2 separate regions of the Homo sapiens genome follow, and region 2 is linked to region 1. Evidence: fine-mapped expression QTL. A gene starts in region 1. The other region holds a variant in brackets. All regions are shown on one strand. Distances are between the middles of the regions. Region 1 holds the start of TFAM (transcription factor A, mitochondrial). Region 2 holds the start of LOC105378316 (a long non-coding RNA gene).

Evidence for each region. PIP is the estimated chance that this variant, and not a neighbour inherited with it, causes the effect.
Region 2: its variant is the best candidate, but not a certain one, in a credible set for the expression of TFAM in monocytes after interferon gamma (Fairfax 2014, PIP 0.61).

What each region holds. Positions count from the first base shown.
Region 1 is chr10:58,379,526-58,390,112 of GRCh38, forward strand. TFAM (transcription factor A, mitochondrial) reads left to right here and starts at 5,885. Exons shown (of 7, transcript NM_003201.3): 1 at 5,885-6,123; 2 at 6,695-6,813; 3 at 8,665-8,735; 4 at 9,145-9,294. The coding sequence starts at 6,023. RefSeq lists enhancers at 5,336-5,435, 5,629-6,285 and a silencer at 5,566-5,945.
Region 2 is chr10:58,427,833-58,438,419 of GRCh38, forward strand. It overlaps LOC105378316 (a long non-coding RNA gene), which reads left to right and starts at 6,094. Exons shown (of 5, transcript XR_945984.3): 1 at 6,094-6,209. The variant T/A (reference allele first, on the strand shown) is at 6,016.

The DNA of each region.
Region 1 (10,587 bases):
AAGGCATTAATGAAAACAGGAGAAGCCAAACAAAGGTAATAAAGTAGAAATAAGTGAGAATGGCACTGGCAGTCCATGTGCAATGAATGAGAGAAAAGATTAGGTGGAGAACATAGATCTGCTGGATATGAAATCTTGGTTCGATAGCAAGTAAGAAGTGTGTAAGTTTTTAACCAGCCAAATGATATAATGAAAGCATTTGCTTGGGGATATTCACTTAGCAGAGTATGCAATTGGAATTGGAATAGTCTATCAAGGTAGAATCCTTAAAGTCATTCTTGTGTTCTATGTACTTAACCAGTCAATGGAATCTTGCCCATTATACTTAGGCCTTTGGAGTATGAGCCATGGCACCATGTTACTTCAGAATCTCAGACCCTCTTTCCTGGATTACAGCAACAGTCTTCTCACACCCATCATTCTCTGTGCTCCTACTAAAGGGATTTTTATAAAAACAACTTAATTGTGCCTGTAACCTGCCTAAAAAGTTGTTTGGCTATATTTTCCTAACAAACTTAAATTATACATAGTCCTTTACAACCCAACCCCACTCAAATTTAAAGAGGTTTGTTTCATACCACTCCTTTTCACATATACCATGCCCTCATAAATATCTGTGACTTGCACATACTGTTTTCCTTTTCTGGAAGGCATCTCAACCTTTCCCCACTCGAAAAAACAGTTCAAATGTCACCTACTCTATGAAGCCATCCCCTGCTTTCCCAGGTAAATTTAAATGGATGATCGGGCCTTAATCGTATTTGTATGTATTATTTATTTATTTTATGGAGACGGGGGTCTCACTGTGTTGCTTAGGCTGGTCTCGAATTCCTGGGCTCAAGTGATCCTCCCCCGTGAGCCACTGCACCCAACCATATGTACTTTTAGAACTTAGCACAGTGTCTGGCACAGTATTGGCCTCTCCTAGGAACTGAGTTTTTAAAAAATTATCACTAAAAGATGAATATTACTATTGTGTTTTACAAGAAGACTAAGATAATATATAAATTAAAAAATGAGTACCACCCATGCACTCCTGCAATACTCAGATACAATCACTATTAAACCAAATTTTGTGTACTATTCTGCACTCTTACTTTTGCACGCACACTCATGCATATGTGTATGTGTAGTTCTTTAAATTCAAACCTATGTTTTTGGGTGACTGAATACTTTTTAAGAGAAAGGGTCTTGCTATGTTGCCCAAGCTAGATTCAAACTTCTGGGCTCAAGCAATCCTCCTGCTTCAGCCTCCCAAGTAACTGGGACTACAGGCATGTGCCATTGCCCTGGCTTAAGATATTATTTTAGTAAGCCACTCAGATAAATAAGAAAGCATTTATGGGGACTGGAAATAATAGAATGTGAGCAGGTGTTTAAGAAAACTACCGCTTCATGACTGATTTACCTATCCTGTATCTACGTAGAGTCATATATAACTTCAAAGCTGCAAACTGTGGATTCAGAGGTGGCAATTTTTGTTATTAACATGCTAACAAGGAAGATATCCTTCCTATTATTTATACAGTTTTCATAGCTGTACAGTAGAAATCATAGCACCTTAGAGGATTTATGAAAGGATTAGTGATAATGTATGTAAAATACTTGGCATGTAGTTTAGCAATAAATTATAATTATTACCATTTGTATTGATCAGATACTTTACCGTGGTATGAGGGCAGACACATTATATTGTCCTATTAACAGCATTATTCCTTCAATACAATCATTCTGGATTTCTTCCGATCTTTAAGTTAGCTTTCAGTAATATGAAGTCAGCTTTCAGTAACATCCAGTAATATGAATTGGGGTATTATACATTTGCATAAAATTATAGCTGTTCTTTTTGCTTGTCCTACCTCCTGCTGACTCATAGAATCAGCTTTAAAATAGACAAGCTACATTTATTTTTTGTAATGCTGCTACAGCAATGGCTTAAAATAATTCTGATATGCCCTTAATAATTAAGGCTGCATGCAGACTTTGTTCTAATTGAGAAATATTTCACAGATAATAATAATTTCGGGTAGCTGGGAACTATTAACATGCAACAGGTCTTTCTTCTAATTTCTCTATTTCTCTTTCCCTTCCTTCTTTTTGTATATTGATTTTAAAGGCAAACTCCAGTGGCATGAAAACAGACTCTATGTCAATAAAAATGGTTTGAAAGAAAAAATTATACAAGTAGTTTTCCATACATAATTTATTAAAATCTTGACTCACAGAAAAAATAAGCTAGGAGATATTCAAGGTGTAAAATTTTTTCTCATTGCTGCAATGCACTGTTATACTTTTATTCCTTTTGTGTCTTTATGCTTTGTTCCCCCAATCACAGTGTCAGCTCTTTGGGGCAGGATCAATATCTTATGCTTTTTGTGCCCCTTTCAAGTGCTTATCACAGTGCTTTGTAATTGCTTATGAGGAAATTGTCTTTAAATGTGGTGTCCATAGTATGATCTTATTTCCAGAGATATTTTACTTACAAGTTCAGAATCACATCTATTTATCCTGCTAAAACCTATTAGGTAATTGCTCCTGTTGTAGCTAAATTATTTATCTATTATAATTACAAAAGCCAAGACTGCTTTCTCTTAGCAACATTTTTTCTTCATTTGAGTGATATCTGTGCATCTAACTCCATTATTCAGCAGGGAATTATCCAGGTTTCTGGCTGCTCCTGCTGTTTATTGGCACTACCTTCTGCTTTACCAATGTGCAAGTATCAATGAACCATAATCATTACTTTCATGTGTATATATATTTCAGAATTTTACATGGTTTCCATCTCCACACACTGGCAAATGTGTCCTTCTATTGGCAAATGACACTTCTAACAGGTAGTTGTTCTCTATGGGGCTAAATTTATATATAAATAATTTGTGCAGATGCTAATCTTTTCACACTATTCATCTCTCTCTGTGTATCTATATGTCTGTCTGTCATCTATTATCTATCTATCTATATATCTGTCAGTTCACCTATCCATCCGTTTGTCCCTTCATCCATCTATCATGCTCAGTGTACTGTGCTAGGTACAATAGGGGATAAAAGAAGGCATAAGATTTAGTCTTTTCCTAATATAACTTACCATCTATTGTGGAAAAAAATATGTATACATAGAGAAAAAGATCAGAAACCAGAGTGGTACATGATGTCACAAGTAAGTGATGTGAGCTCACACACTATAGATGATCCACTAAAGATATTTTGGGCTGGAATGATGTGGCATGTTCACTGAGTCTGAGTGATCTGATACAAACGAAAAGCACAGGACAATGAATTGCAATTTTTACCTACACAACTTACTGTTGGAAGCTTATGAGTTGGGCTTTCTGAACTTCATTTTTCTCATCTGGAAATTGGGAATAATGATCATGACAATACCTTCTCTACCTTTTCCTTTGATATTTGAATCATACAGTCAAATAAAGTTATTTAAAAATTTCTGAAAATATTAAAGTGCAATCCAACTTCAGGGTGTGTTGTTTTAATTTTTCATCAACTACCACAATGTGTCTGCTCAAATATTACTAATTTAAGAAATATTAAAAGTTCAACAGGAAGAAAGGAGCAATGCTGGTTATGTAATATGTATGTTTGCATGTTAACAGGAAAAGAAAAATTTGTCAGTAGCATGAAATCTGCCAATGGTGGGAGTATTTACACCATAGAACTCAGCAAACACCACAAATTGGGGCTTTCTTTTTTGGAGAGCTATTTACCAGCATATTACTGGCCTGAACAAAAGCAACAGCAATGGGACTAGAGAGAAGGAAATACATACTAGAGGGATGAATGAGGCAGAATCAGCAATACTCATCATCAGTTGGTTAATGGCAGGTGGAGTGTCAATGGGGAGATTCTAAAATGATTTATCAAGTTATTGGCTCAGATGATTAAAGAGGAAAACATGTGCATCTTACCAAGAGAAGGACTTCAAGATGGGTGAAAGATAGTGGATTTTGTTCAGGGAATGTTGAAATTGAAGTACTTGTGGGACATGATGGTGAAAATGTACAGAAGACAGTGGTTATGTGGATACGGAACTCAAAGGAGAGGACTGGGTTCAATATGGCAGTCATGAGGCTATAACTAATAGCTGAAGTCATGGGACTAGAGAACTTTACAACAAAGGGACCCTGGGAAAGGCTGCAGTAAGTCTTCATGTTTTATAAAGTAATTATATACCATGTCTTTTTGTTAAAAGACAGTTTTAGTGGATAAAGTTATGTTTCTTTGTAAATTCTGCTTTTAGAAGTAAAATTATCACTGCAATGTAAATGAGTTTTAAGGAAGATTGGTATCTGATGAAAAATGTTATGGATTTGATTTTTAAGGTCTTTACAGCAAGATTTATACAAATGAAAGTCGAAAACAACAAAAAGTTTAATATCCAAAAGAAGTTTATGTCAAACATTTGAAAGAACAAAAACATTCTAGAACAAAAAGGGAAACAAATTATTTTAGAAATCAACTTAAATGTAACTTCTGTCTGAGCCCCATGTTGTAATTATTTGCTACTTTGCCTCACCTTTGGGGCTGGGGGCGGGGGGTGGGCTGGGGCACAACACTGTGTCTTTTATCTATGTTTAGGGCGTTGTACATAGTATATACTCAGGAAAAAAACCTGTTTATTCCATGCCAGAATGGGAGGTTTGAACAGATGACTTGGAAGGTCCCTTTCAACCCTGGGAGTCTATAAAAGGGAAGTGGTTATTACCGCTTAAAAGAAGAAGTAGGCTTAGTCCTACTTCCAGAGAGCCAATGTTTTCATAGTTACAGAAAGGTAAATAGACTGTCAGCTCAATATGACACTGGTAAGAATTTTCTAACAATTACGGCTATCCAACAGAAGAAAGGCTGTCTCAGAAGGTGGTTAGCTCTGAAACAACTGGTATTTAAGGGCTGGAAGGACCCTTAGGTATCTTTAGGTCTTCCTAATCTTTTTCATGCCATTGCCTATACAGAAAATGGTATTTCTATAACACAAATAAAAAAATTATACAGCAATTTTTGACACATCAATGTCTCAAGGCATACTTGTCACACGTTCTCAGGGCTTTGGCTGGGAAAACTGATTTAGTCTAACATCCTCGTTTGCAGAGGGGGAAACTGAATCTTAACGAGGGAATGCAATATTCCCAAGTCAAGACGTTAATGTTAATACTGGAACTAGAAGAATTGAGACTAGCGACTGTGGACAACTAGCCAGTTTCCTCTGCTCAAATTAAGCAAGCTGGAGGCCAGACTGAAAGACTGCAGTAGATGGTAGAATAAACAGTCTAAAGCTATATTGCTTTAAATGTGGTCTCAAGACCACCGACATTAGAACTTGTTAAATTCTGGGGAACTCGCTAAAATGAAGATTAATGGGCCCCACATAGACACACGGAATTAAGCTCTGCGGTAAGGCCTTGGAATCTGCATTTTTAGGTTTGCGAATCCCCGCCTCTCCCGTTACTATTTCTGAACTCCGAGCTCCAGCCCTGGCTTGAACTGAGACGCTCCGCTGGGCGCGCAGCAGCCGCCGATCGGACCTCGGGGTCCTGGATGCAGGACTGTCTGTTACGTACAGCCCTTGTGACCGTCACGGGCGGACACCGGCCAACGCCGGGTTGGGGTGAGGCCGCCGCCGCGGTCCCTCCATCACCCTCCTGGCCCGGCAGAGGAACCCACTGCTCCGGGCGGCCGGGGACAGAGGTGGCTCAACAGCGCCGCCTCGAAGCCAGAGCCCTCCGCAGGCTAGAGGATTGCGGTTTCCCTTCATCTCCGCGGCTCTTATTCCTCCCCCGCAAGGCCGCCCACCGGGGTACGCTCTCCCGCGCCTGCGCCAATTCCGCCCCGCCCCGCCCCCATCTACCGACCGGATGTTAGCAGATTTCCCATAGTGCCTCGCTAGTGGCGGGCATGATAACACACGCCGGAGGGTCGCACGCGGGTTCCAGTTGTGATTGCTGGAGTTGTGTATTGCCAGGAGGCTCTCCGAGATTGGGGTCGGGTCACTGCCTCATCCACCGGAGCGATGGCGTTTCTCCGAAGCATGTGGGGCGTGCTGAGTGCCCTGGGAAGGTCTGGAGCAGAGCTGTGCACCGGCTGTGGAAGTCGACTGCGCTCCCCCTTCAGGTAGGCCCGCTTGCCTGTGCCCTAGGGGCAGCAGGGCCCAGGACGTCCCGGGGTTGGAATGTAGACCCTATCCTTCACTTTCTGCCCCTCCTAGGAGTTCAGAGTCACCCTGGTTCTTTGATTCAGACCGCGACCTTGCCAAGGGGACGGTGGCCTTGAGACCAGGCCTTTATTTACTCTCTTAATACGCCGTACCTTCTTGCTACCCTCCACTCGCTTCTCCCATCCCTCCTCACTGTCCAGCTTTGGATCCTTTCCGCCTCCTCTGCGAATTCGCGCCGAGTCTCCGGCCATCATCTAGGCATTGAGGAGGCGGGGCCCAGGAGCTGGAGTATAGACGCTTTCCTTCACTCCCTGCCCTTCCTAGGAGGTAAGGGCTTTGAGACTTCAGTCCTGCAGACGCTCCCCTCCGTTTAGGACAGGGTTTTAATAAGTCTCTAGCATTCTTGTTGAAGGCGTTGGATACATAGTATCTTGATGACATTTCTTATTTGGGATCTGTGTTCATATACATGTGAATATTGACAGTTAAACATCTGACACTGGTTATTTTCTTTTTGTTTATATGTAGTTTTGTGTATTTACCGAGGTGGTTTTCATCTGTCTTGGCAAGTTGTCCAAAGAAACCTGTAAGTTCTTACCTTCGATTTTCTAAAGAACAACTACCCATATTTAAAGCTCAGAACCCAGGTAAGGAGTTTTGGGGCATATACCCTTTTCTCATGTAATAAAAATGCCATTAAGCAGTTAAATACCAATGTTGAATTGCAGTGCTAAAGCATTCAGTGACTGCAGGAACAATCATTTGATGTCTGTAAAATAGGAAGTTCTATTTTATACCAAATGGAAATGCTTTAAATATAAATGAGAACTAGTAAATGGTATTTTAAAAATAACGTATAGTGTAGAAAGCACCCTAGGAAGAGGATAAAAAAGCTGAATTTGGGGCCTTGTTGCCTTTGGTCTAGAGGACCACTGATGAATTATTTTCTCTTGCCTAGCTCCTCCTTTTTCTGGCTCAGGGAATTGTTAATAAAGTTGCAACTTCTGTGGAAGCATCCATAAACTGTAAGTTCTGTAGAACTGTAAAGTTCTATGCAATTTACTGCTAATTTCAAGAGCTTTCAAGATAAGAAAGGATAAACCTTTTCATCATAGGAGTTCAGAGCCACTCTGGTTCTTTGATTCAGACCTCGACCTTGCCAAGGGGATGGTGGGTTGTAAAGGATAAATCCTTTCTTGTCTTGGGTTCCTAAAAAAAAAACATTTCCAGGTAGGATGTTTGTTGACTCTCTAGAAAGCCTCTCGGCGAGAATAAAAAATGCTCACATCAGGCTGGGTGAGGTGGTTCACACCTGTAATCCCAGCACTTCGGGAGGTCGAGATGGGTGGATTGCTTGAGCCCAGGAGTTCGAGAACAGCCTGGGAAACATGGAAATCCTGTCTCTACCAAAAATACAAAAATGAGGTGGGCATGGGGGCGCAGTGCCTGTAGTCCCAGCTACTTGGGAGGCTGTGGTGAGAGGATCACTGGATCCCAGGAAGTTGAGGCTGCAGTGAGCCATGACTGCTCCACTGCACTCCAGCCTGGGTGACAGAGCGAGACCCTGTCTCAAAAAACAATAATAATTTTAAAAAAAAGCTCACATTATAGGTAAGGAGTTAGTTTCAGAGACATGCTTAAGTACCCACATCTTTTAAATGTAAGAGTTAGTACTAACAGGTATTTTTAAAAATCAATTAATTGCACGCCATCATTCCGGTTAAGATGAAGAAGGAAGTGGAGAATAACAGATTGAATTTCGAATAGCTTGTTTCCAAATGATATTTCTGTTATTGAAATACGAGGCTGTGTTATATGGATCGAGAATGTATTTTGTTGTTAGCTTTTATAAATTTAGGAATTCCTCAAAGACTTGAAAAAGTGTTTTGCTTGAAATATGGAAGGGAAGTAAAAAACTTGAAGCAATTGATCATCCAGCTTCTTAAACTAGTAATCAGCCTGGTGTGGTGGCTCGCGCCTGTAATCCCAGCACTTTGGGAGACTGAGGCAGATGGATTGCTTGAACTCAGGAGTTTGAGGCCAGCCTGGGCAGCATAGCGAAACCCCGTCTCTACAAAAAATACTAACATTAGCTGGACATGATGGCGCCTACCTGTAGTCCCAGCTACTCGGGAGGCTGAGGCAGGAGAATCACTTGAGCACAGGAGGTGGAGGTTGCATTAGGCCAAGATTGTACCACCGCACTGCAGCCTGGGTGATGGCCTGGGTGACGGACCCTGTCTCAAAAAAAAAAAAAAATCCTAGTAATCAAACTGTTGACTGTTTCTGGTGGTATATGGTATACTCCTTAGTTGTTAGATAATAGACTTTTGATAATGTTGGATAAATTACTTACGTTTAAATTAGTTGGATAAAGGAAAGTTAAATCATTATATTAAGTTATGTGTGGTATGGATTGTGCTTTCCTGGATATCTTTAGAAATTAATCCTGAGAGGTAAAATTGTGGCATCTTTTTTCTTTTTATTTCATTCCATAGATGCAAAAACTACAGAACTAATTAGAAGAATTGCCCAGCGTTGGAGGGAACTTCCTGATTCAAAGAAAAAAGTAAGCACATAAGTTTTCAACATTGCTGACCAGTTATTCTGCAGTTAGGAGCAATTGTCATGTCCTTTAAAGGACCAGATGGATCAGACTTTTTAAAAAATAATCTGTTATCTACAAAGAAACTTTATGTCTTCTCATCTGCATAAATAATGAGAATATGGATGTATGGGGTGGAGGTGAAGAAGTGGCAGTAGTTTGAAAATGGAAGCTGATTACTAAACTCTCACCTTGATTAGTATATATAAGGAAAATGTATGTTTTAATCCATATACATCTCATCCCAGAGCACATTTTCCACCTGGTGATAAAATCTGTCTGTCTGAAGTCATGCAGTTGCCTTTCCCTGGCATGTGCTATGTTGAATTTGCCAGCAATGGTTTGTTGACTTACTTGGGTTTTTTATTTATAGATATATCAAGATGCTTATAGGGCGGAGTGGCAGGTATATAAAGAAGAGATAAGCAGATTTAAAGAACAGCTAACTCCAAGTCAGATTATGTCTTTGGAAAAAGAAATCATGGACAAACATTTAAAAAGGAAAGCTATGACAAAAAAAAAAGTGAGTATCATTGAAATACTTTTTTCTTATGGTAAAGAATTGAGATTTATATAACTATGAATATAGGTAGTTTTCTCTTAATAGGCAAATAAAATATGGTAGAATGTCATCAAGTATTCTTCAGTTAGGCAGAAGTGGGATAGTTCTCTTATGAAAAGTGAGATAGCCACTAGGACCACTTGCCATTGAGTCTGTTTGGAAATCCTTGTTGCTACTTGCAGATGTATCCACATTTAAGGTGTACAGTTCGTAGAACAGTAATGGAAACTACAGGAACAGAGTTATGAAACAGTCAAACCAGGAGTATCAAGAATCTTTGCTTCTGAGTCTTCTTTAGAATAACGTATTAATTTGAATTATTCTATAGATTATGGTGAGTTTGATATGGAATATTGCTGAGTAGACTGCATTAATTCATTAACACATCGGAAAAATGCCAATTTATCTAATCAATTAAGTGCCTTTAGGATGGAATTCTTTTTTTTTCTTCAAAGAAATAACTATTAAAAACCTCACATGGTTCAAAATTTGTAGTTCCCAGCTTAATGTATTAATTCACATAAATGTCATCATTTGAAAGTTATACATTTTTTTCATAGAGCCAGTATTAGTTTTGAGGTGGTCAGTTTGCTAGTCGTGTACCTACACTATTACAAATGATCATCAGAGTTAAAACTATTTCTTTGAAAGACTAGATTACAGCCTTGAATGTGGGATGCCAATACGTCTTTCCCTGACCCTAATGTTTTAAGCTGTCCTAGCACTAGGGTTGAGGACCCGCCCAGTTTCGAGACCATGATGCCGCTACTTTAGGGTGGCTGATCTAATCAGTAAAAGGGAGCCAGAAAGATACTAAGAGTGAAAAATAGAGTGTCTACATAAGGATGGTGTTTGGAAGAGTGATTACTAAAGTATATCCTCCCTCTTTCATTCTCCCTTCCTCCTTAATGCACCCAGCCCACTGTGCTAAGAGTAGAGAGGACCAGAAGCATGAATTGGACATTTATAAAGTTTCCCTTGTCATTCTCTCTTTCTTTTGTAATTGTTCTTGACTCCCAGTACCAACTAGTTCAGAGATCAAGTGAGAAGTGTGAGGACTAGGAAGTTACAAGTAAAACCCTCAGGAGAGAAATCCCTAGTGATAGCTCTAGAAACAAAGAGGGAAATAGTTAAGTTGTAAAGTGCTTGGAGTCTATAGTAGTTTCAATACTCAGTGACTGAGAGATTCAGGAAGAAGAAACTAAATCAGAGGAGCCCTACTTACAGTTATGAATAAAAGTTGAATTTGTTACT
Region 2 (10,587 bases), 48 kb after region 1:
AAGTATGGATCCAGTTTTATCTTTTCTTCAAATGGTTATCCATTTGTCCCAACGTCATGTATGAAAAAGTCAATTTTTCCCACCCTCACATTACAAACTTAGTGATTTGAGATGTCACCTGTAGTACATATTAAATGTATATGTGTGTTTGAGCCTATTTAAATTTTTTTTCTTTGACATACTGATTTCATTTCTTTGGAATATATGCCCAGTAGTGGGATTGCTGGATCATATGATAGTTTTATTTTTAATTTTTTTAAAGACCATCCATAGTGTTTTCTGTAATGGCTATATTAATTTATATTCTCACCAACAATGTACAAGAGTTCCCTTTTCTCTACATTCTTGCCAGTACTTATTATCTTTCGTCTTTCTGATAGCAGCTATTCTAACAGTTGTAAAGTGATAGCTCATTGTGGTTTAATTTGCATTTCCCTGACTAGTGACATTGATCATTTTTTTTCTTTTTTTTATTATTATCCTTTAAATTCTAGGGTACATGTGCACAACATGCAGGTTTGTTACGTATGTATACATGTGCCATGTTGATGTGCTGCACCAATTATCTGTCATTTACATTAGGTATATCTCCTAATGCTATCCCTTCCCCCTCCCCACAACAGGCCCCGGTGTGTGATGTTCCCCACCCTGTGTCCAAGTGTTCTCATTGTTCAATTCCCACCTATAAGTGAGAACATGTGGTGTTTGGTTTTCTGTCCTTGCAACAGTTTGTTCAGAATGATGGTTTCCAGCTTCATCCATGTCCCTACAAAGGACATGAACTCATCCTTTTTCATGGCTCCATAGTATTCCATGGTATATATGTGCCACATTTTCTTAATCCAGTCTATCATTGATGGACATTTGGGTTGGTTCCAGGTCTTTGCTATTGTGAATAATGCTGCAATAAACATATGTGTGCATGTGTCTTTATAGCAGCATGATTTATAATCCTTTGGGTATATGCCCAGTAATGGGATTGCTGGGTCAAATGGTATTTCTAGTTCTAGATCCTTGAGGAATTGCCACACTGTCTTCCACAATGGTTGAACTAGTTTACAGTCCCAGCAACAGTGTAAAAGTGTTCCTATTGCTCTGCATCCTCTCCAGCACCTGTTGTTTCCTGACTTTTTAATGATTGTCATTCTAACTGGTGTGAGATGGTTATCTCATTGTGGTTTTGATTTGCGTTTCTCTGATGGCCAGTGTTGATGAGCATTTTTTCATGTGTCTGTTGGCTGCATAAATGTCTTCTTTTGAGAAGTATATGTTCATGTCCTTTGCCCACTTTTTGATGGGGTTGTTTGATTTTTTCTTGTAAATTTAAGTTCTTTGTAGATTCTGGATATAAGCCCTTTGTCAGATGGGTAGATTGTAAAAATTTTCTCCCATTCTGTAGATTGCCTGTTCACTCTGATGGTGGTTCTATTCTGTTCAGAAAATTCTGTTCTATTGGTCTGTCTGTCCAGTCGTGAACTATTATTATGCTAATTTAATTATAGAAGCTTTATAATATGTTTTCATATCTGATATGGCTATGCTCCCCTCCCCACCATTGCTCTTGTCTTTCTTGCTTCTTGGCTGTTCTTGCCTGTCCTTTTTTCTATGTGACTTTATTTTTTTAATTGTATAAATTTATGGGATATAAGTACAATTTTATTACATGCATAGTGGTGATGTCAGTGCTTTTAGGATATCCATCACCCAAATAACGTACTTTGTACCCATTAAGTGATTTCCAATTATCCATCCCCTTCCACTCCTTCACTCTTCTGAGTCTCCATTGTCTATCATTTCCCTCTCTACTTACATATACACCTTTTCTGGCACTCATTTATAAGTGAGAACATGCAATATTTATATTTCTGTGTCTGGCTTGTTTCATTTATGACAATGCCCTCCTGTTCCATCCAAGTTCCTGCAAAAGACATGATTTCATGTTTTTATGGCTGAATAGTACTTTATTCTTTATATATACCACATTTTCTTTATCCAGTCACCTGCTGATGGAAACTAGGTTGCTTCCATATCTTTGCTATTGTGAGTAGTTGATAAACATACAAGTGCAGGTATCTTTTTGATATATTGATTTCTCTTTCTTTGGCCAGATACTCAGTAATGAGATGGCTGGATCAAATGGTAGTTCCATTTTTAGTTCTTTGAGAAATCTCCCTACTGTTTTCTATAGAGATTTTACTAATTTACATTCCCGTCAACAGTGTATAAGCATTCCCTTTTCTCCACACCCTCCCCCAAATCTTTTATCTTTTGAATAATAGCTTCTGATTGGGGTAAGATGATATCTTATTGTGGTTTTAATTTGCATTTCTCTGATGATTAGTGACGTCAAGCATTTTTTCATATACCTGTTGGCCATTTGTATGTCTTCTTTTGAAAAAATGTCTATTTATATCCTTTGCCCACTTTTTAATGACAGTATTTGTTTTTTTTTTTCCCATTGAGTTTTTTGAGTTCCTTGTATATTCTGGATATTAGTTGCATGTAGGATAGTTTCCAAATATTTCTCTCATTCTGCAGATTATTTGTTCACTCTGTTGATTCTTTCTTTTGCTGTTCAGAAGTGTTTTCATTTAGTTATGTCCCATTTGCCTGTTTTTATTGCCTGTGCTTTTGAGGTCTTAGTCATAAATTCTTGCCTAGACCTATATCTAGAAGAATTTTCCCTAGGTTTTCTTCTAGTATTTTTATAGATTTGGGTCTTTTGTTTAAGTCTTTAATCCATCTTCAGTTGATTTTGGTATATCCATGCGACTTTAGAATAATTTTGTCTTCTTTATGAAAAATCTTATTAGCATTTTTGTTGGAATCACAATAAATAAATAAATAGGTTAACTTCGGGAGAACTAACATCTTTATGATAATGAATTTCCTTATCCAAGAATTTATTATGTGTCCCAATTATTCAAGTTTAACTTTGTGTCTTTTTGAAATGTTTTGAATTTTTCCTCATATAGGTTTTGTATGTTTCATGTTCCATTTTCTTCCTAGGTATTTTATGGTTTTTTGGTTGTTGGTTTTTTGTTTTGAAACAGGGTCTTGCTCAGTTGCCTAGGCTGGAGTGCAGTGGCATGAACATGCCTCACTGCAGCCTTGATCTCTTGGGCTCAAACAATCCTTCTGCCTCAGACTTCTGGGTAGCTGGGACTACAGGTGTGTGCCACACTTGGCTAATTTTTTTTTTTTCATAGAGATAGGGTCTTTCTTTGTTGTGCAGGCTGGTCTTGAACTCCAGGCCTTAAGTGATCCTTCTGCCTCGCCTTCCCAAAATGCTGATATTACAGGTGTGAGCTACTGCATCTGGCCTGTAGTTTTTTAAATGGGATCTTCTCTTTCATGATATATTCTAACTGGCTTACACTTGTGGATAGGAAAGCTATTGATTATTTCATTCAATATTAAATTTACTTTTTTGTTTTACTGAATTCTTTTTTATTGGTTATATATAATTTTTCATGAATGTATAGTATTGCATTATATAAAAATACTGTAAGTTAATTAACCAAACTCTTGATATTGAACATTTAGTTTTATGTGTGTGGGAGGTGGGTATGTTTTACATTTTCCCACTATTAATACAAAGATGTTTACATCCTAGTGGCTAAATATTTTTTGTTTCTTTAATAATTTCCTTATAATAGATTCCTGGAAGTGAATTTGCTGCTTCATTGGATGTCAAAACTGGAAAGCTTTAAGAAATATGTTTTGACAAATTGCCCTGGAGAGGGCTTGTACCCATTTATTCTCTAACAAGTTATGTCTGAGAAGGAACAGAGTTTAATTTTACTGGGCCAAGCAAAACATCAAGCTCATTAAAGGCCTAGGGCAATAACTTTCAGATTATTTAGTCACAGACTTTCTGTTTACAAGGAAGTTTATGTATTATATTGAATTATATGAAATTGACATTTTTGCAGGCAATATGGTTGAATATCAGCAGTTTCCTATTGTTCAACTTAACAGAAGCCTAACAGGTATAGCAAAAAAAAAAAAAAAACACAGCTGTTTTGACTGATGATGGAGTAGGGGTATTCAGAAGACCTCAGAGAAGGGCTTAAGAGCAGCTCTCTAGGCACAAAGCCCTGGGTGGGAAGGCAGGTGCGGGATCTGGGAACCCTCAGGGCTTCAGTCAGGGCGAGTGTGTGGACAAGGGTGGTGGACAGTGTGAGGGCCCTGATTGCCTGTGGGATAGGAGCTGGCAGAGAGGACAAGAACATCAACATCTGGCAAGGGAACAGGTGCTTTGGACATTTGCCTTTAACAGCAAGTCTGACCTTGCCCTTTTGTGGGATTGCAATGTCTGAGAAGCAGTACCAAGTTCCTACAGTGTCTCTGTGATGTGTGGAAAGATGTGGGTTCAATCCCAGATCAAGTATTTATTAACAATGTGACTTAGGGCAAGTTTGTAAGTTTTTCTATGAGTTAGTGTTCTTTTCTGTAAACTGTGAATAAGAATTCCTACCATATCAGTTTGTTGTTAAAATACGATGCTATGGCCGGGCATGGTGGCTCACGTCTGTAATCCCAGCACTTTGGGAGGCTGAGGCAGGGTGATCACAAGGTCAGGAATTCCAGAGCAGCCTGGCCAATATGGTGAAACCCCGTCTCTACTAAAAATGCAAAAATTAGCCTGGCGTGGTCGTGGGCGCCTGTAATTCCAGCTACTTGGGAGGCTGAGGCAGGAGAATCTCTTGAACCCGGGAAGCAGAAGTTGCAGTGAGCCCGAGATCGTGCCACTGCACTCCAGCCTGGGCAACACAGTGAGACTCCATCTCAAAAAAAAAAAAAAAAAAAGATGATGCTACAAGCTACCTTAGATACTTAAAGTATTACATAGTACACAATAGATTCTCAAAAATGTCAGTTGTAATAATAATTTCATTATCTTATATTCATTCCTTTTGCTCTCATCAAGGTTCAAAAGGACATCCAAATGTGTGTTTGTTTAGAGTTTATCTTAGGGATTCCACCTCCCTAATATGTCTGTGAACCAAGGAATAGAATAACAGTAATAATTCCTCTCATTTTGTAGAAAAGAAACTAGAGCAGCTTATTGTTTAGCTCCATGAGGACCATTAAGCACTGGGACTCATTTTTATTCTCAAAGACTCCCAGGTGAAAAAGACCTGGAAATCATCTGTTAGTTCAGGTTGAGTCTGATTTCTGATTCACATCTGCAACACTCTTGGTGAGACACGAGCAAGCCTAAGGATGGATAGCAAAACCCACAATACCCATGCCATCACGCCTCTTTCAAGGTCTCATGTAAATATTATTAATTTTTTTAACTTGTCCAAGTTCACAAAGCTAACTCTTTTTTAATGATATTTATTTTACTGCTGAGCCCTGATGGGCCTCAGAATCCTTTTCAACAAATTCTGGAAGCAGCTAATACTAAACAATTTGATCTGTCACATTGAGTTGAAATCTATGTGCTGTTCTGACCCAGCCTCTAGCCGAGAGCTAGCCAAAGGCTGGGAATGCATTTCTACTTGCAAGAGCTAGTTTCATCTCTGGAAAAACATGCTGTCTCATTTCACTTTTTAATTCCCCCAAAATATATGCATAAATGCTTAATAAAGATTTTTATAATGAATGAATAAATAAATAACTAAAGGAAAGATTTACAGAAGTGTTTCATAACTTGCCTCAGATCTCCTGGAAAATGTGTTGGTTCATCAGACATTTACTGAGAACCTATTATGTTAAGTACCATTTATGTGAGGTGATCAGGAAAGTCTGCAATGATATGACTTTTTAAGTTATGGTGAAATATACGTAACATAAAATTGACCAGTTTAACCATTTGAAAGGTACAGTTCAGTGGCATTAAGTACAATCTCACTGTTATGCAACCATCGTCCACATCCATCTCCAGAACTTATTCACGATCATAAACTGAAACTCTCAACTCATTAAACCCAAATCATCCACTATTCCATCCCCCCATCCCCTGGCAACCACTGTTCTACTTTCTGTATCTATGAATTTGACTAC[T/A]CTAAGAACCTCATACGTGAATTCATGCAATATTTATCCTTTTGTTTCTGGCTTATTTTACTCAGGATAATGTCTTCAAAAGTTCATCCATATTGTAGCACATACGAGAAGATGACTTTTTAAAAAGTTTTTAATTAAAACATAACATAAAAAGTGAAAAGTGCATAACTTGCTCACAACCTGAACACATCAGGGTAAGTAGTGTCTACATAAGAAATGGAAAGTTACTAGAAGGGCAGAAGACCTCCCCATACTCCACTCCTAACCCCCGAGAATAATCTCTATCCTGACTTCTAACAGCGTAATTTTGCCTAGTTTTTAACTTTACGTAAATTAAAGCATACAGTATTTTTTTTCTATTTGCTTTTTTTGCTCAATATAATGTTTGTGGTATTCATCCATATTGTTGTGTGTAGTTATATTTCTTTCATTCTCATTGCTATACAGTATGTTATCATGTAAATATGCCACAATTTATATATCATTATATTGTTGATGGAGACTCAGGCAGTTTCTGGTTTTTTGTTAATATCAATAGTCTTGCTATGGCTAGGCATGGTGGCTCACACTTGTAATCTCAGCACTTTGGGAGGCGGAGGTGGGTGGTTCACTTGAGGCCAGGAGTTTGAGACCAGCCTGGGCAATATAGGGAGACCCTGTATCTACAAAAAATTAAAAAATTGGCCAGGTGGGCCAGGCATGGTGGCTCACACCTGTGATCCCAGCACTTTAGGAGGCTGAGGTGGGCGGATCACAAGGTCAAGAGATCAAGACCATCCTGGCCAACATGGTGAAACCCTGTCTCTACTGAAAATACAAAAATTAGCTGGGTGTGGTGGTGGGCGCCTATAGTCCCAGCTACTAGGGAGGCTGAGGCAGGAGAATCTCTTGAACCCTGGAGGAGGAGGTTGCACTGAGCCAAGATTGCGCCACTGCACTCCAGCCTGGCAACAGAGTGAGACTCCATCTCAAAAAAAAAAAAAAAATTAGCCAGTTGTGGTGGTGCACAGCTGTAGTCCTAACTACTTGGGAGACTGAAGCAGGAGGATTGCTTGAGCCCAAGAGTTTGAGACTGCAGCAAGCTGTGATTGTGCCACTGTGCTCCAGCCTGGGCAACAGAGGAAGACTCTGTCTCTATAAATAAATAAATAAATAAATAAATAGTACTGCTATGAACATTCCTGTACATGCCTTTTGGTAAACATATGAATGGATTTCTATTATATATATTATGTATATGCTATATGAATATATCATATAAATGTATATATGCATATATATATATTCAGAATTAAAAATGCTGGGTCACAGAGTATGCCTATATTAAGCTTTAATAGCTTTTCAATGTGGTTTACCATTTAGAAAGGGTCATTTAAGCTGTGGCCTGAAAAACGAAATGGAATGGAAGCTGCATTGAGATTTCCACACTAACATCTCCCTACTGCTATGACAAAAATGTGACCTTTTATAAAGTGGTTAGAGTCAAATGGGAGAAGTCCTTTGCCTCTTTTTTGCTGTGGTCTCCCAGTACACTTTAGTGTGAGGAGCCTCTGTCATTTTGGTCAGACCCAGGGAGTCAAGAGATGATGACTGATGACTCAGCCTCCTCAGCTCGGCTTCCCAGAGCTCCACTCACCACATCAGTGAGCCTGGCATGCAGGGGGAGACATAAACACAACCATGGTGTTGATATCAATCCTAGCAGAGATGTCACAAGCCAAGGTCTGGGAAGAGGAAGAATGAATCAGGATAAAACTTCAGTGGAAAAAAGACCAAGTGAGAGACTTAAAAGTCACGACTAAAGAATTGTGTAAGTAACAGTGGCAAATGACAACAAAAGGCCTCTACAGCTAAAATAATCAGTGGTACCTGTTTCAGATCCCCAGGCTTCTCTGTTTTTGGGAGGTCTTAGGATGCAGGGCTTTGCCAATTGTGTGGCCTGGGATGACAGCCAATTGATGGAAGCTGGAATTCAGGGCTTTCTTCTCAACAGAAGTTAAAGAAGGCAAAAAAAAAAAAAAAAACCCAAACAAAAAATCTGGCCACAAGTGATGTCTATCAGTGTTGTGTGGGTGTGAGAGCCTGCCCCTTTGTCTTAATAGAGAATAGAAACATACCTGAGGAGGAGCCCCAAAGGCCTGATAGGAATGGGTCATTTTGAGAAAAAGTTTCCAATGGGAAAGATAAAAATCTAGTTGTTTTGCCCTTCAATGTTTTAGAGTTTCCTCAGAGCACAGAGAAATCTTAGTTTGCTTCTCCTTAAGGTACTGCTCATAAAGTCCCGTCTTTTAAAGAAAAGGAACAGAGTGAAAAATGATTGATGCATCAAAGTGAAGTTTCCTTTTCCAAACATGTGTCCGTAAGTTGCTGATCTGGGGTCCCTTCAGAATTGCATGCTGTGTCTTTAACCCATTTCCTGTTTGGAAAAAAATGTGGCTCACTGCCAGCACAGTGTTCTTGGGGCAAACGGGAAGTGGCTTTAGGTAGCCAGACAGGTATGCAACAAACTACCTTTCATAACAATGCCTCAGGCCAGAAGGGATTGGGTCTCATGCCAAAAATATCTTTTGATTATCTTTCTTTAGTACGTACAAAAATTGAGACTTAAAAAGTATTTCAGGGCCACCATTTTAAATTTCAGTCGAATGTTCATGTTACTGATTAGAGTTGTGTCTGTAAAAAGTATTAAAGATTGAAGTGTGTTTCTATTCTGTAACAGTTGCATATGTGTGTATTCTAACAGAATTTCTTGTATGAAATAATTGTCTTTCATTTATTTGTTTCTCTTAAGAGTTCTCAAGGAAAATACAAGTTAAATTAGTTAAGAAAATTCTGATTGGTTGGGTTTCACCTACCTGCAATATTGATTTCTCTATATATATGGATAAAAGAAGTCAATTTAAATATGTTGACCCATGTGGTCCAGTTTATATGACATTCAAATAAACACAACTTTGAACACCAAGACTAATTGGAAAATAATTCAAATATTTACCAGGGACTCTTGAAGAATGTCAGAAGAATATCTAGCAGACATCCTAACAATTATTTCTGCATCTTTCTTTCTATTTCCCATCACTCTGAAGTTTTTTTTCAAAGACTTGCTCAACTCACAAAATCTCTTTCTCATCCCTGCATTGCACTCAGGGTTCTGGTCTTTTTCCTCCCTCTCTCCCAACAAAACACAAAAATAAATAAATTTGTCTCTTTATAAGATTGAAAAAAAAAATCCCAGTCTGTATCTTATCTTCCAGTTATCAGATCTTTCTACCCATTGGCCTGATTAGCTTCACAGAGTCCTGGAGACAAGCTAGCAGTCACAGAGAGGGAAGATTGTGAACCCTTATACATTCATGCTTATGGTCCCAGTTGCACAATAATTTTAAATACAATTCATACAACAGGCTATTTCCCAGTCACTAAATGACAAAACTTTCTTTGCAATAAGAGGCAAGGCCAACAGTGACCAAAATTCACATTTTTGAAGACTGGAGAAAGGCATGAGGGAAGAGGTGAAATGTGGTATAAAATGAATAACATCTTTGAGCAGAGGCGGCATTCTGCCTTAGACCCTCCTCTTCCCCTCCTCTCATGACATCACACGTGCCGATGCTTTTCCCTAGAAGCCCTATTTCTTGAAATCTGAGACCATAACCCAACAAATCATTCCCTTGAAAGTTTACTTACTTTTTGATGGTTATTTGATATGAAGAAGAAATCGAAAAGAGAGCAGAACTTCAAGGTTGAATTTGGCCATTTCCATGCTAATTCATATTGGTGCCTGAGAGTGTCCTCATTAGGATCTCATTTCTCTGTTAATGTCAAACAGTATCTGATCTCTGCCTATCCAAGGGCTGGTATGGGCTTAATGCCAGCATTTAATGCTGGAATCTAAAGCTGGGACAGGTAAGGTGCTTCGCCTGCAGCATCCAAAGATCAGAGCAGGCAGAGAGGAAGTCTAGGAGCATACACAGTAAAAACGTATAAATAATATGATTTGATAAGATACAAGCACAATAAAAAGTTAGAAAAGAAAAATACTAAATACACGTTAAATGTATACATGCTGAAGAGATTGCCAGATAAGAGTGTTTACATAGCGTAGTGGAACAAGTGAAGAAATGTTTCCTTAGAGAATAATATATTAAGAAAATGTCCATGTCACCTGTATTGGTTCAGAAAGAGTTATTTTTGAAAGCACCTGGTTGTCTTAGGATTAAACTGCCTAGCCCTTAGGGAAGGAGACAAGGGCCTGTTCATTCATTCATTAACTCATAATATATTAAAATTGTGCTTGCTATATACTAAGCACAGTATTAGGCACTAGAAATAGGGTATGGACTATGACCAACATGTTGCTTATCCTCTTGGAGCTTACAATATAACAGGGAAGATAGACCTTGGAAAGGTTATTACTCATTCAGACAATGAATGTGTGCAAAGACAGTGATGATGGAGAAATGCATGGTGCTATTGAAGGCATTATGGAAGAATATGACCAAAAAAGAGGACAGGGTCGCTTTCTTATCAGTGAATATCAGCTGAGCAATTCAGGTGCCACTGCTTCCACCT